Homo sapiens: one gene and its partner. The protein of the gene in region 1 interacts with the protein of each later gene in a pairwise test. Each region holds a gene or a part of one and is shown on either strand. Other genes may lie near its edges.

What was found.
Region 2: the proteins of RNF139 (region 1) and UBE2U interact in a two-hybrid assay, tested with the Homo sapiens proteins (one large-scale study listed by BioGRID and IntAct).

What each region holds. Positions count from the first base shown.
Region 1 is NC_000008.11:124,477,556-124,481,383, forward strand, and holds part of RNF139 (E3 ubiquitin-protein ligase RNF139), read left to right. Parts: intron 1-3,828. UniProt on the Homo sapiens protein: E3-ubiquitin ligase; acts as a negative regulator of cell proliferation through mechanisms involving G2/M arrest and cell death.
Region 2 is NC_000001.11:64,206,577-64,210,404, forward strand, and holds part of UBE2U (ubiquitin-conjugating enzyme E2 U), read left to right. Parts: intron 1-187; coding exon 188-280; intron 281-3,828. UniProt on the Homo sapiens protein: Catalyzes the covalent attachment of ubiquitin to other proteins.

The DNA of each region.
Region 1 (3,828 bases):
CCCCTCTACCTACAAAATGGTGCTACAACTGTACCTTCATTTGATATCAAACTAATTTGAGATTTCAACCGGTTAGAAAATAAAGCAACTCATTTTGGAGATCCAAATAAAATTCTATGACAATATATGGAATATTGAAGAACATAAAGCTGTGTTTTAAGGGATGTTAAATACTAAACGAAACTCAACCCAGAGCAGCATAATGCTGAGTTAGCAAATTTAAATCCAAGGCAGAAAATGCAAGCCTAGGAGTTTGTTTTAATAGTATTACTAATATGGTGATAATTCATTGAGGTGGGAAAAGGCTTTAAACATAACAGAAGACCCAGAAGTTCCAAGGAAAAATCTGAAAAATTTCAGTACATAAAAATAAAAAGCTTTTTTATGGCAAAGCTTAAAAAAGAATCCTTAAATGACAAACTGAGATAAAATACTTCTATCATAAGTGATTCACGTTCCAGTAAGAGTTTTACCCTGCCAGGGAAGCTGAGGCAGGAGAATCGCTTGAACCAGGGAGTTGCAGGTTGCAGTGAGCCGAGATCGCTCCACTGCACTCCAGCCTGGGGATAGAGTGAGACTCTGTCTAAAAAAAAAAACAAAACAAAACAAGAAAAAACTTATACTCCCTTAGGAAAATGCCTAAGACAAGCAATTCACAATAAACAAAATGCAGATGTTCAATAAGCAAGAGAAAAAGTATTTAGCCCTTCCTGCAGTAGCTTGATTTTATGGGGGAAAAAAAAAAGTACCTAGCCTTGTTTATAATTAAATACTGTCAAGACCGCTTACGGTGGCTCACGCCTATAATCCCAGCACTTTGGGAGGCTGAGGCAGGCAGATTGCTTGAGGCCAGGAGTTTGACACCAGCTTGGCCAAATGGCACAACCCGTGTCTACCAAAAAATTAGCCGGGTGCAGTGACTCCTGCCCATAGTCCCAGCTACTGTGGAGGCTGAGGCACGAGAATCTCTCGAATCGGGGAGGTGGAGGTTGCAGTGAGCCAAGATCGCGCCACTGCACTCCAGCCTGGGCGATAGAGCGAGACTGTCTCAAAAAAAAAAAAAAAGTCAAAAAAAATTTATCAGATTGGTGAAGAGTTCAAAGTTTTATTAGTTTTGCAAAGGTATTTACCTTTTTGAAATAGGTAAATTTATACAATTTTGGAAGACTTTTTTTTTTTTTTGAGACGGAGTTTGCTCTTGTTGCCCAGGCCGGAGTGCAATGGCGTGATCTCGGCTCACCACAACTTCCACCTCCCAGGTTCGGGCGATTCTCCGGCCTCAGCCTCCCGAGTAGCTAGGATGATTACAGGCAAGCGCCACCACCCCCGGCAAATTTTTTTCTATTTTTAGTAGAGACAGGTTTTCTCCATGTTGGTCAGGCTGTTCTCCAACTCCCGACCTCAGGTGATCTGCCCACATCGTCCTCCCAGAGTGCTGGGATTACAGGCGTGAGCCACCGTGCCTGGCCCGGAAGACTCTTAATTTCAGTGTAAAACCATTTGGCAGTATCAACTGTCATTTACAACTGACTTCTCAGTGTTTTGTTTTGTTTTTGAGACAGTCTCACTCTGTCACCAAGGCTGGAGTGCAGTGGCGTGATCTCAGCACACTGCAACCTCCACCTCCCAGGTTCAAGCGATTCTCCTGCCTCAGCCTCCCAAGTAGCTGGGATGCCTGGCTCGTACAACTTTTGACTCACAATTTCAATTCTAGGGAATTGGCCTAGAGAGATAGTTTGCTTAAGGACTATGGGCAAGCATTACTGGAAATAACAAAGCAACAAACTTAATCTAAATATGTATTGATACAAATCTGTTCATTGTATTAGGTCTAGCCATGCAATAAAGTTCTTGAAAGAAATGAGATAGCTATTTTTGGTGCCGAAAAAGACTTCAGAAAACCTCTGAAGTGAAAAAACAAAGCCGAAGTAATTATCACTGGCAGAGGAATAGACAGAGATTTCTCAACAGTGGCAGTATTGACATTTTGGACAGGATAATTCTTTGTTTGCGGATGGGAGCTCTCCTGTGCACTGTAAGATTTTTAGCAGCATCACTATCCCCTGCCCATTAGATGCCAGTAGCACCTTGCACCCCCACACCCCAGTGTGACAGCCAAAACTGTCCCTGGATATTGCCAAATCATGGTTGAGAACCATTGGGATAGACAAATAGATTAGTACTTAGCCTTATTTATAATTACATAGCCCAGAAACAGACACCAATGTATATATAGAAATAATGTGTTTCAGAGATAGAATTGAAGTACATTGAGGTAAATATGGACTGTTGAATTAATGATCATTTTGTTACACCTTTGGAAATAAATTATACTAGATGTCTACCTTATGTCAATATATAGACAGTCACTTCTAGGTTGAGCAGTGTAGTGAGACCCTGTCTCTGCAAAAATAAATATTTAAAATAATAGCCATACTTGGTGGTGGGTGCCTGTAGTCCTATCTTACTCAGGAGGCTGGGGTGAGAAGATCGCTTGGGCCTAGGAGTTCAAGGCTGCAAGTGAGCTATGATTGCATAACTGCACTCCAGCCTGGCTGGGTGACAGAGCAAGACCCTGTCTCTTAAAAAAAAAAAATAGTCATTTCTAAGTGTATTCTTACCTAGATGTATATGTAAATATGAAATGCAGAACTTTAAATTTTTAGAAAAAAATATGGAATATTTTATTTTTCCAATCTTAGATTAAGGAAGAAATCCTTAAAAATATATAAAAGCAAATACATAATGAAGATTGATAAACCGAATGATATTGAGGTTAAAAACCTATGTTAATCAAAAGATCGCACCACTGCACTCCAGCCTGGGCAACAGAGCGAGACTCCATCACTAAAAAAAAAAAAAAAAAAAAAAGGAAGTCAAATCTTGGGTAAGGGGGAACTACTGTACTTACATTTACCCATTTATTATAAAGGCAATTACAAAGGACACAGATGAATTAACCCGATGGAAGGAGATGTACAAGGTGAGACAAAGAAGGAGAGAAGAGGAGAAGGGGCGTGGAGCTTCAGTGTTCAGCTATCTGAGAGCTCACAGAACTCAGTCCTTTTGGGCTTCTATGGAAGTTCATTAAATAGGCAAGATTGATTAGATCACTAGTCATTGGTTTATGGACTCAAGTTTCAGCTTCTTTCTTCCCAGAAGTGGCGGCTGGGGGTAGGAATCAAAGTTATAACCCTTAATCACTGGGCTGATTCCCCTGGCTACCTAGCCCCCATCCTGAAGCTATCTAGGGGCCCCCAGGCACCAGTCATCTGATTATTGTACAAAACAGTCATCACTCCAGAGATTCCAAGGATTTTAGAAGCTATGTCAGAAAATGGGACAAAGACCAAATATTAATATTTTTTTTATGATATCACAGATGGGAAAGACAAACTAGAAAAACTTGCTTTAACTCTTCATTTAACACCTCTCTGTAGGGTTTGGCTTTTTAAAATCCATGTTCATATATTTTTGATAAAAGCATACTTATTATAAGTTTAGTTTAAAAGCAAAAGTTTAATTTTGTGTTAATACTTAGAATACCAGGTTTTTTTTCAACCTAAAATGAGAATCCAATAGAAATGTTTTCTTTATAATTTATCAAGTATACCAACAGATTAACAACATTTCAAGACACTTTGTTGTAAACTTCATTGCGGAAGGCTCCCTTGGGAGTAAGGTAGTAGTAACATTTATTTCTGTGCTTTTCCATATTTATTCTGTCAGGTATTGAAATGTTTTTCCACAGGTTGCTTTTTGTTTTAGAGGTATTTCGGGTACTTGGAGAATTGTAAATATTATGTTTTGTACCCTGATTTTTAGTCA
Region 2 (3,828 bases), on another chromosome or scaffold:
ATGATTATAATAGATTGTGAAGTGTCTGTTATACTATCCAGAGGAGTCGGTGCACTCTATGAATCAATTTACTTAAAAATAAAACTGTGGAAAGACTAAACCATAGGGAGAAACTCCAGTGTTAATCAGGTTACAGTTAATCAATAAACATGACACTTTAGTAAAAATGTTTATTTCTATATTATAGGTTTAGTCTTCCAACTGACAATACATTTTACATCGGAGTACAACTATGCTCCTCCAGTTGTGAAATTTATAACAATTCCGTTTCATCCAAATGGTAAGAACTAAATGACATTTTTATCATTAGAGGCTTTGTCCCTATTATCCTTGTTTCTTATAATAATCATGTTTCTTTTTAAGAACTTTATTATGATTCTAAAAGTAAGAACTCTCATTGGGGAAAATATGAAAAGGCTGGAAAAAATTAGCAATCACCTTAAATCCTAATGCAAAGAGAAAATACTGTCAACATTTTGCCAAATTTATTTTCCTTTTTTCTAAGTATGAATTTTTTCTATACAGTTGAGGTATTATGCATGAAGTTTTGCCTCTAGGTTTTTGATTTTATTTATTTTATGGTGTTTTTTTTGAGACAGAGTCTCTCTCTGTCGCCCAGGCTGGAATGCAGTGGTGTGATCTCGGCTCACTGCAACCTTCACCTCCCAGGTTCAATCGATTCTCCTGCCTCAGCCTCCCCAGTAGCTGGGACTACAGGCATGCGCCACCACACCTGGCTAGTTTTTGTATTTTTAGCAGAGATGGGGTTTCACCATGTTGGCCAAGCTGGTCTTGAACTCCTGACCATCCGCCCACTTTGGCCTCCCAAAATGCTGGGATTACAGCTGTGAACCACTGCGCCTGGCCTAGGTTTTTAATTTTAAAACTATATGTCTTTTTTCTGCATTATTAAACAGTCTTCAAAAGATCATCTTAAATGGTTCAACAATACACTTAACCATTTCTGTATTGTTCAATATTTTAGTTGGATCTAATTTTTCATTATTATAAAAAAACGATGCACTGGACAGATTAACTTTTTTTAAATAAAAGGTAAGTTAGATTGCTACTTAAAGTTATACACAAAACCAATTCCTGAAGGATCAAAAATCTAAAAATTTTAAATGCTGGAAAAGAAGGAAATCTAATAGAATTTTTATGGGCTTGGTGAGGAAGACGTTTCTCAGCATGATAAAACCCAGTAACTGTATGGAAAATATGACACATTAAACTGCAAAACCTGTTAAAACTTCTCTACGGCCCAGGACATTATACTCAGAGGTCAAAGACACTGACTTTTGCAAACTGAGGGAAAATATTTGCAATGCATGTAACAGAATATGTATACCATATGAAGAACACTTGTCAATCAATATAAAAAGAACATAAAGCAATTAAAAAATGGAGAAAGGCTATAAACAAACACTGGACAGAATAAACAACAAAAATAAACATAAAAAGATTATCAATCTCACTACTAAGAAAATAAAAGCAAATTAAAACAAAAAGTATTGTTATTTATCACATATTCATAAAATGTCAAAATATAACATACATATTTAGTAGGCATGGGCAGACATTGTTCCTCTGATATAATCATGACCTTTTGAGGAAGTAGTGTGACAGTTTCTAATCAGGTATAAAATGCATATATCCCTAAATTCCCGTAATACCATGTTTATAAACTATTCTGTAGAAATATTAGCACAAGTGTGCAAGAGTGTGTTATATTTAAAGACGTTTATTCCCACCAGGCTCAGTGGCTTATGCCTGTTATCCCAGTACTTTGGGTGGTCAGTGGGGAGTATTGCTTGGGTCCAGGAGTTTGACACCAGCCTGGGCAACATAGTGAGACCTGTCTCTACAGAAAATAAAAAAATTAGCTTGGCATGGTAGCATGTGCCTGTAGTCCCAGCTACTTCAGGTCTGAGGTAGGAGGATTGCTTGAGCCCAGGAGGTCGAGGCTGCAGTGAGCCATGATTGTGCCATTGCACTCCAGCCTGGGCAACAGAACAAGACGCTGTCTCAAAAAAAAAAAAAAAAAAAAAAAAAAAAAAAAAAAAAAAAAAAGATGTTTATTCCCAACAGCAATGTTAGAAATAGGAAAAATGGAAATAACTTCAATCTCCATTAACACAGGAATTTTAAGTGAAATATCCTACAGTTACGTGTATTGCTTCTAAACAGAACGAGGAAGGTCTACGAACCTTTTAGGTCTAGATCATTGCTATATCCTTAGAATCTTCACTGCGTGGCATATAGTAGGTATTCAGATATTTTTTGAATAAATATTTGTGTCCAGAAATATGTTGAAAATACATTGTTAAGTGAAAAAATACATTGAACAATAAAATGTAAAATATATTCCCATTTAATAAACACACACATATGGGTGTGTATACATATATGTGTTTGTGTGTATATTTGTATAGACCAACTGGTAATATTGGTCTTGAATAGTAGAATTAGTAGGCAGGGGAACATTCATATTTTACATTAGATTTTTTATGTTTTTTTCCCAAGTACATTATTTTATTGTAATTAAAACCTATTTTTGGTATCTATAACACAAAATTAATTACATACGTGTGCCTTTATTTGTTTAAAATAGTTAGAATTATTGGATTAAATTCAATGGGGGGAGGTACTCTTATCCCCTAGTCCTCATCCCTCCCACTTCCATAAAGTAGAGGGAACTTTAGTCTCTAGGAGGGGGAAGGTATAGGAAAACTTGTGACTGCTCTTTTTTTTTCCCCCATCACTCCTCCTAGAAGTCACTTATCTGATTAGGGAGATGAAGGAAAGAATTGAGCATATGTGGCCCAGAACTTGCTCAACACTCTCTCCTTCTGACCATACTGGGTATAGTCTCTTTTGCTCCAGGCAGGAAACTTAGGCAGGCCTTCGGTTTGGGAGTTAAGTTTAAATCAGGGGGACTTTTGTGGAGCCTGATTAAAGCCATTCATCAAGTGCGTTCTCCATTTCAGTCTTATGTGCAATGAAGCTGATGTTTTTACTTCCACCTTTCAATACTTTGATCTATTTTATAATTACATATGAACTTGAGGGGAGAGAAGGGTTATTTACTAGCTTTCAACCCCCGCCCCCGCCCGCCCCGCAAAAGATGGCTATGTACAGTTTTAAGTCTTTATATAAAAAGCCAAATTGCCTTTCGGTGGTATTTGTACTCCTACCAAAAAGTACATATAAAGTTCTTATTTTAGCACCTTCCAATTCTGGCCATTGAAACTTTGAAGAAAATTTTTTTGCCAATTTGGTAAGAGTCTTGCTATTATTTTAATAAGCACTTCTTTGAATACTTGAGAAGTAAACATTTCCCACCTTTGTTGATTCTTATTTTGTGACTCGTATGATACAATTGACAGTGCTATCACATTGTCCTAGATGTTGCAAATATTTCCTCTAATTTGTCATTAATTTTCAACTTTGTTTATGCTGTTTTTTCACATCTGGGATTTAGAGATTTTTATGATTTAAAATAAATTTATATTTAAGATCTATTAATCTTGTCCTTTGAGGCTTTTGCAGTTGTCTTTCATCTTAGATGATCCTTTCCCAAAAGAAAATCAAATAGTCATTTTAAGTTTCTTCTAGTCATTCTACAGTTTTATTTTTCTTATTTAACTCTATTATTTTTTCAAACACTAAATTACTTAACTGTGTTAGGGCATATGCCAAGCTCCTGTACATCTTTCCAACTTAACATAACAGGACAACGCTGGAGGGAGGTTGTGCCCATCCTCAATGTGAAGATTCCATTTCTGGGACTAAGGCATTTACTGTTTGTCACCATTTCCAGTCTGGGGG